Linked DNA regions of Homo sapiens. The protein of the gene in region 2 purifies or fractionates together with the protein of the main gene of each other region. This does not show direct contact. Each region holds a gene or a part of one and is shown on either strand. Other genes may lie near its edges.

The links. The genes of interacting proteins can lie anywhere in the genome.
Region 1: the proteins of CMKLR1 (region 2) and CNIH4 purify together in Homo sapiens (affinity purification with mass spectrometry; one large-scale study listed by BioGRID and IntAct). This does not show direct contact.

Annotation. Positions count from the first base shown.
Region 1 is NC_000001.11:224,366,879-224,370,378, forward strand, and holds part of CNIH4 (protein cornichon homolog 4), read left to right. Parts: intron 1-3,500. UniProt on the Homo sapiens protein: Involved in G protein-coupled receptors (GPCRs) trafficking from the endoplasmic reticulum to the cell surface; it promotes the exit of GPCRs from the early secretory pathway, likely through interaction with the COPII machinery.
Region 2 is NC_000012.12:108,287,546-108,290,928, reverse strand, and holds the end of CMKLR1 (chemerin-like receptor 1), read left to right. Parts: 3' UTR 1-2,883; downstream 2,884-3,383. UniProt on the Homo sapiens protein: Receptor for the chemoattractant adipokine chemerin/RARRES2 and for the omega-3 fatty acid derived molecule resolvin E1.

The DNA of each region.
Region 1 (3,500 bases), on a different chromosome or scaffold from region 2:
CGTGAAGCCGGGAGGCGGAGCTTGAAGTGAGCTGAGGTCACGCCACTGCAACCAGCCTGGGCGACAGAGCGAGACTCCGTCTCAAGAAAAAAAAAAAAAAAGCTGCAAATTAGGTAACTAATCAAAATTTTTTATTTAATAAATTTAGGAAGTTTGTTCAAAATGAGCTCAATGGAAACCCTGAAGTATATAATTTTATAGTTGGGTTATTAGACATAGCATACTTTCTTGTGAAGACCGCTGGGATAATCTTGACAAGCCTGTAATTGTTATATTAGTGGGTTGCTGCTCTACTACATTTTTAGGTTTTATTTCATTTTTATTTATGTCTAGTTTTTTGGGACAGGACCATTCATTGGCTGTTTTTTAAGTATGATGTTGTAAAGTGCAGTTAGAATAAAAAGAACAGAAAAAAATAAAGTAGGGTTTGGAGGAAGATGGGATGCACATGAAAAGATAATGGCAGCAGTAGAGGTGAGGGAAGGAGTGGATATGGGGGAATGATTTTATAAAGGTCATGAAACTAGAATCTGAGTGAGGGAAAAGCTTTAAAATATCTGTGTCTCTTTTCTAGAGGGTGGGTACCCTGGGGTCGAATTTTTTGTTTTCTTTTTCATTTTTTAATATACTGAACATGGGTTCTGAATTTTTTTTTTTTTTTTAAGAGATGAAGTCTTGCTGTGTTGCTCAGGCTGGAATGCAATGGCTATTCACAGGTGTGATATAGTGCACTACAGCCTTGAACTCCTGGGCTGAAGCGATCTTCCCACCTCAGCCTCCTGGGCAGTTGGGACTGCAGGTGCACACCACCGCACCTGGCCTCTTTCAAGCTTAGTAGTACTCTCCCATGATCAGTTCCATAGACCAACGCCCTAAAGTGAGCTCTGAGCTGGGAACACAGATTACTTGCACTTCTGCTGCGGGCTAGTCCCAGACAGACTTTTAGCACAGCTAAGTCTACCTGTAGTTTCACTTAAGTGAAACACAACTTTGGGAGTGAGAATGGGGACTCGAATCTTTGAGAATGAGGATCTTAATGTTATACCAGACCATACTGTCAGTCATCTCTACTAGAAATGAAAACCTGCTAGAAGAGCCAGCTTTGGCATGGCTTCTTTGTAGATAGTGGTAAAAGGTTCTATGAAGTCAAGTCCAAAGATTCTTTTTTTAGGCCGGGCGTGGTGGCCCATGCCTATAATCCCAGCACTTTAAGAGGCTGAGGTGGGTGGATTACCTGAGGTCAGGAGTTCGAGACCAGCCCTGGCTAACGTGGAGAAACTGCATCTCTACTAAAAATACAAAAATTAGCTGGGCGTGGTGGCATGCGCTTGTAGTCCCAGCTACTTGGGAGGCTGAGGCAGGAGAATCACTTGAATCTGGGAGGCGGAGGTTGCAGTGAGCCGAGATTGCACCACTGCACTCCAGCCGGGAAACAGAGCGAGACCCAGCCTCAAAAAAACAAACAGAAACACTGGAGATTCTTTTTTAAATATAATTATAAAATAAAGACAAAGATCATGTATATTTATTGCCCTGGTAACTGCAGTGACAGGTTGGCTGTCTGCTGGTCACAAGTTTACCTTCTATTTAAAAAGGTTTAAAAAATCAACAGATAGATTATTTGCTATTTTCAGACCACTATACTTTATGCTGTTGGAGATGAAGTACAGTAGTCCACAGGACAAAGAGGCAAAATACCTAGGAGTGGAATCACTGAGTCATATAGTAACTCTATATTTAACCTTTTGAGGGACTGCCTGAGTGTTTTCAGAAGCAGCTGCACTTTTTTTTTTTTCGAGATAGAGTCTCACTCTGTTGCCTAGGTTGGAGTGCAGTGGCGTGATGTTTGCTTACTACAGCCTCGACCTCCTGGGCTCAAGCGATCCTCCCACCTCAGCCACCCAACGTGTTGGGATTACAGGTGTGAGCCAGTGTGCCCAGCCACAGCTGCACTATTTGACATTCCCATCAACTGTGTATTGGGGGTTCCATTTTCTCTACATCCTTGCCAACACTTTTTACTGTGTGTGTCTTTTTTTTTTTTTTGATATCAAAAAAATACCAAAAACTGTCTTTGATATTTTTTTCCTGCCCTAGTAGTATACAGCTGTAGAGTTCCCCTGCCTGTTATAAGCATTAATATATGTGCCTCAGCGACCATCCCACTCATGGTCTTTGGGGAATCATACCACAGCTCTCAGCTACTTTTATCCAAATTGTGCTGATCTTTCTTGGCAATAAGTAATTTAGGTGTGATGCTCATTCTCCAGTATGCTGAATGGTCTATTATGGTAAAGTTGTATCAGTCTTCTAGTTATAACGCACTGGAAGTAAGAATTAATATGAAAGATTGGCTGTCAGACACTGGAAGCCTTATATAGTCCTGTTTTAAATTATTCCTGTGTGTTTTAGAGATGAGCGCAGTGGCTCACTTCTGTAATCCCAGCACTTTGGGAGGCCGAGGTGGGAGGATCACCTGAGGTCAGGAGTTCAGGACCATCTTGGCCAACACGGGGAGACCCCATCTCTACTAAAAATACAAAAATTAGCTGGGCATGGTGGTGTTGGGCACCTGTAATCCCAGCTACTCCGCAGCCTGAGGCAGGAGAATTGCTTGAATCCAGGAGGAGGAGGTTGCGCTGAGCCGAGATCTTGCCACTACACTCCAGCCTGGGCAACAGAGCGAGATTACGTCTAAAAATAATAATAATAATAAACTAAAAAAGTATAACTGGATCGTTTGTAACACAAAGGATAAATGCTTGAGGTAATGGATACCCCGTTTACCCTGATGTGATTTTTTTTTTTTTTTTTTGAGACGGAGGTTTGCTCTTGTTGCCCAGGCTGGAGTGTGATACCGCAATCTTGGCTCATTGCAACCTCCGTCTCCCGGGTCCAAGCGATTCTCCTGCCTCAGCCTCCTGAGTAGGTGGGATTACAGGCATGCGCCACCACGCCTGGCTAATTTTGTATTTTTAGTAGCAATGGGATTTCTCCATGTTGGTCAGGTTGGTCTTGAACTCAACCTCAGGCAATCCTCCCGCCTCGGCCTCCTGGAGTGCTGGGATTACAGGTGTGAGCCACTGTGCCCAGCCTTACCCTGATGGGATTAGTACACATTGCATGCCTGTATCAAAATCTCTCATATAACCCATAAATATATATACCTACTGTGTACCCACAAAAATTAAAAATAAAACAAAAATACAAAAAGGAAAAAAAAGACAGCTAAGTAAGTGGTGGTAGGAAGAAAGACTGGACAAGGGTTTGATGGACTGGCTATGAAAGATGAGGAAGAGAGAAGTCCCAGTTGGGTAAGAGGAAGTTTTTAAGGACCACCAAGAAAATGGTGACACTCTTATTAGATAACCTAGAAATTAGACAAGGATGAGATGTTATCTGGATATTCAAATGAAAATACCCTCTATTCAGCTATAGTCGGGCTACTGGGGTTTTAAGGGAGAATTTCAGATTTGTGGAACTCAGAGAGTCCTTTGCAT
Region 2 (3,383 bases):
GCTGGAGGTGCTTAGAATAAAACACTGGTGGTGGGGCTTCTCATTCTGGTTAATTTCCTCAACGCCTTTGGAGACAGGTCCAAAATGCAGCTTTGGGAAGCAACTCCGGAGAGTCCCCTGGGAAGAAGAGTATGTCCGAGGACTCAGTCACTTGAGACAGAGTCTGGAGCTGGACTCCTTGAACTGTGTTTCTGAGCTGCAGACACCAAATACCTCCTGGATACAGGTGCCTGGCATGGCTTTTCTCATCTAATACTGACACGTCCCTGTGGCCACAGAGTGTCATAGCCCCATTTACAAATGACATAGCTGAGGCCCAGATGGGGAAAGTAACTTGCCCAGCATCACACAGCTAATCAGTGGCAGAGTTAAGATCTGAACCTGGCTCCGTCTGGCTCCAGAAACTCTGTTCTTCTATTTGGAATTTATCTGTGGAGATTATTCTAGTATATTGATAGCCTACATTTATTTAGCACTTTTTATATTATGCACTTTACATATGTTTTCTCATTTAATCATTACAGCAACCCTGAGTTAGGTATGGTTATAACTTCCCTTTTACATAGGAGGAATCTGAGGCTTAGAGAGGTTAAGTAACTTGCCCAAAGGTACCCAGCTAGTCTCTGCCGGAGCTTGGATTTGAACTTCAGTTTGCCTGGCTCAAATGAGGCTGCAGAGTTGGGAAGGACTTAAAAAGTTTGGAGATTTTTGCCATAAATATTGATTTTTCTGCAAATGAGGATGAACATCTTAATGGCCTTTAAGAAACTTTGCAAATAGTTTTCAAAAATGATGCAACATGGCAGAGAAAATGCACTTGGCTTCCAGCTCCCTCAACAGCCATTAACAGCCTCCTACCGTGGCTCCCACCTCCTATGTCTCCAGAGATCAAGGCAATGGGGAGGGAAAGCTGGCAGGAGGCAGTCCCTTGTGGGCCTGAGGCCCTTTGGCTCCTAAGTGTCCACATTCTGTTCTCTTCCAAGTCCCTTCATTGTTAAGCTGATTCTCCAACAAGATGCAATGAACAGATGCAATGTCTACCCCGCGCTGGGCGAGTTCCCGAGGCCATGGGCTGTTTGGAATCACACTTCATTAAGAGACAAACTGTTCCTTCCCTTATTGTGCCTTAATGCTTATGACAAGGCAGCTCTGAATTGATCCCAAGCTGGAGCCTCTGAATGCTTTAAAGAGTTTGAATATAGACGGTTTGAGAGCAAAAAGGGAGCTTTAAATATTGCTCAGTGGCCCCCATCTCCCCTCTTCCCACATTTACTGAGGCACGAGATGGGATGGGACCTGTCCCGGGTCACAGCAGCAGTCGTCAGCGCCTTGGCCCTCCTGGCTTGTAGGATGCTGCTTTTCCTGGGCTTCTGGCAGTCCAGGCCAGGATGGGGGAGCCAGGAATTCATGTTGTCATTGGAAAAGCTGATAAACAGGAGCACAATTCAAACCGGCTGTTTTCCTCCTTAGAGTCTGGCCTCCCTCTTTCTGGCTGCTCTGTGGGTCTTCCTGTTCTGACTTAGGTTCCTGTCAAGTACTTAAATGCAGCCTTAACATCCCATACAGTCTTGTCCCCACAGCTTCATGTGAACATCTCCATGGGTCATGCATATATCGTCCCTGCAGTGTGCAAAGTGTGCTCACCTGCACTGCTGCACAGGCAACCAACATACTTAGTGCCCAGAGCCTTCTCTCTGGGCCCAGGACTCAGTGATGGGGCCTTACTTAGCCCTGCCTCCTGGGTGGGGTGGGGGAGCTGAGGGATCGTGAGGACAAGAGGTAGAGGGAAAAGAAAAGAAGATGGTGTTTGAGGATAGGGGAGGGACAGGAGAGGGGACAGAAAGGTCCCAGAGCATGATGATGAAGGAAAGGGATCTGGCATTCATGAAGCACCTACGATGGTTCAGGCACAAACACTGAAACCTCAAATTGGCCCTGGCAGAAGGGGACCATCATAGCAAGGTGGGGGGGGGGTGCAGAAAGTGAGTTTCTGTTTCAAGAACAGACTTCACTAGTTCAGAGTTGCACAGCTAGTGAGGTATGGAGCTGGGCTTTGAATCAGGTCAGCTGCCTGAATGCCCAACTTCTTCAGCCCTTGGAAGGAGAGGGTGGGGAGAAGAAGAAGGAAAAGACAAGGAAGAAAGAAAGAAGAGAGAAGGGGAGAGGAATGGAAGTCCAAAGAGTGGGAGGAATTTGATTTCAGAACCATCTCCAGCTGACCCTTGAGCCAGCAAGGACAGGGAGAAGGGAAGAGCAAGAACACGAAGGGCCTCAAGCACCGGGATGCCTTTGCCAGCCTTAGATAATTCCCAGAGCGCACAGAGCCCTGCAGGTTCCTGGGTCCTTCTCCAGAGAAGAGGCACAGAGATTCTGGCAGCAAGGTTCAGAAGGGGTGAGGAAACTGGGCACTGACAAAGGGAGGGGATTGGCTCAAATTCGACCCCAGAGTCAGCTCTGGTGGGGTTGGGAGCCTGGATGGGTGGGAGAAGATAGAATCCAATCGTGAAAACCATAAGGGACCTTCAAACTCATCTTGCCCAGATGTCTCCCATTTCACAGATGAGGGAACTGAGGTTTTGAGAGCTTCCCCTGAGGACTCTGCAAAACGAGGTGGTGTCTGGTTTGGATGAAAGTGGTCGGTGATTCCTCAACTCCTGCCCTGCCTCCCTCTCTCGTTCCTCCCTAACATGTTATGCTCTTGTTGGGGCTGGGATGCCCTAGGCCCAAGGTTACCAAATCCTGGGTTTGGAAAATTGCTGCTGGGGGTGGTATCTAGGACCAGAGAGGAATCTACTATTTCTACTGTGAAATAATTCAGCAGGGGGTCTTCTTACTTCTTCCCTTTGAGGACAAAGTTTCTCTCGAATAAAGAGACTGAAGCAAGAGTGTGTGGCTCAGTTCTGGGGGTTCCTGCCATCACCTCCCTTTTGCCTTCCTCACTTACTTCACAGAACAGCAGCTGAGGCTCAGAGAGGTGAGGCGGCCAGTGCAAAGTCACAGAGCTATGTTGTGGGCAGCAGGAGAAGCCCTGAAGTCCCCAACCTGCCATTCTCAAACCTTCGAGCTCCAAGAAATTTGCATTTTGAAAAAAATTCTTTTCACTTATTTTGCTTTTCTAGCAACTGAGGATGTGAAAGAGGTAGTTACTCACCCAAGATAATATAGTAAACCCTAGCAGATAAGGGACATAAAGCCAGGCCTCCTCATGGTCAGGTCTATACTCTTTGGCACTGCATCAGGTGGCCCAAGGACAGATGCTCCTGTGACACATTCATCCATTCACCTTTTCACCAACCCATTCACCCTAACATCCACCCACCTATCCACCCACCCATTCACTCCAAGATCTACCCATCCACCCATTCACCCCAAGATTCACCCAC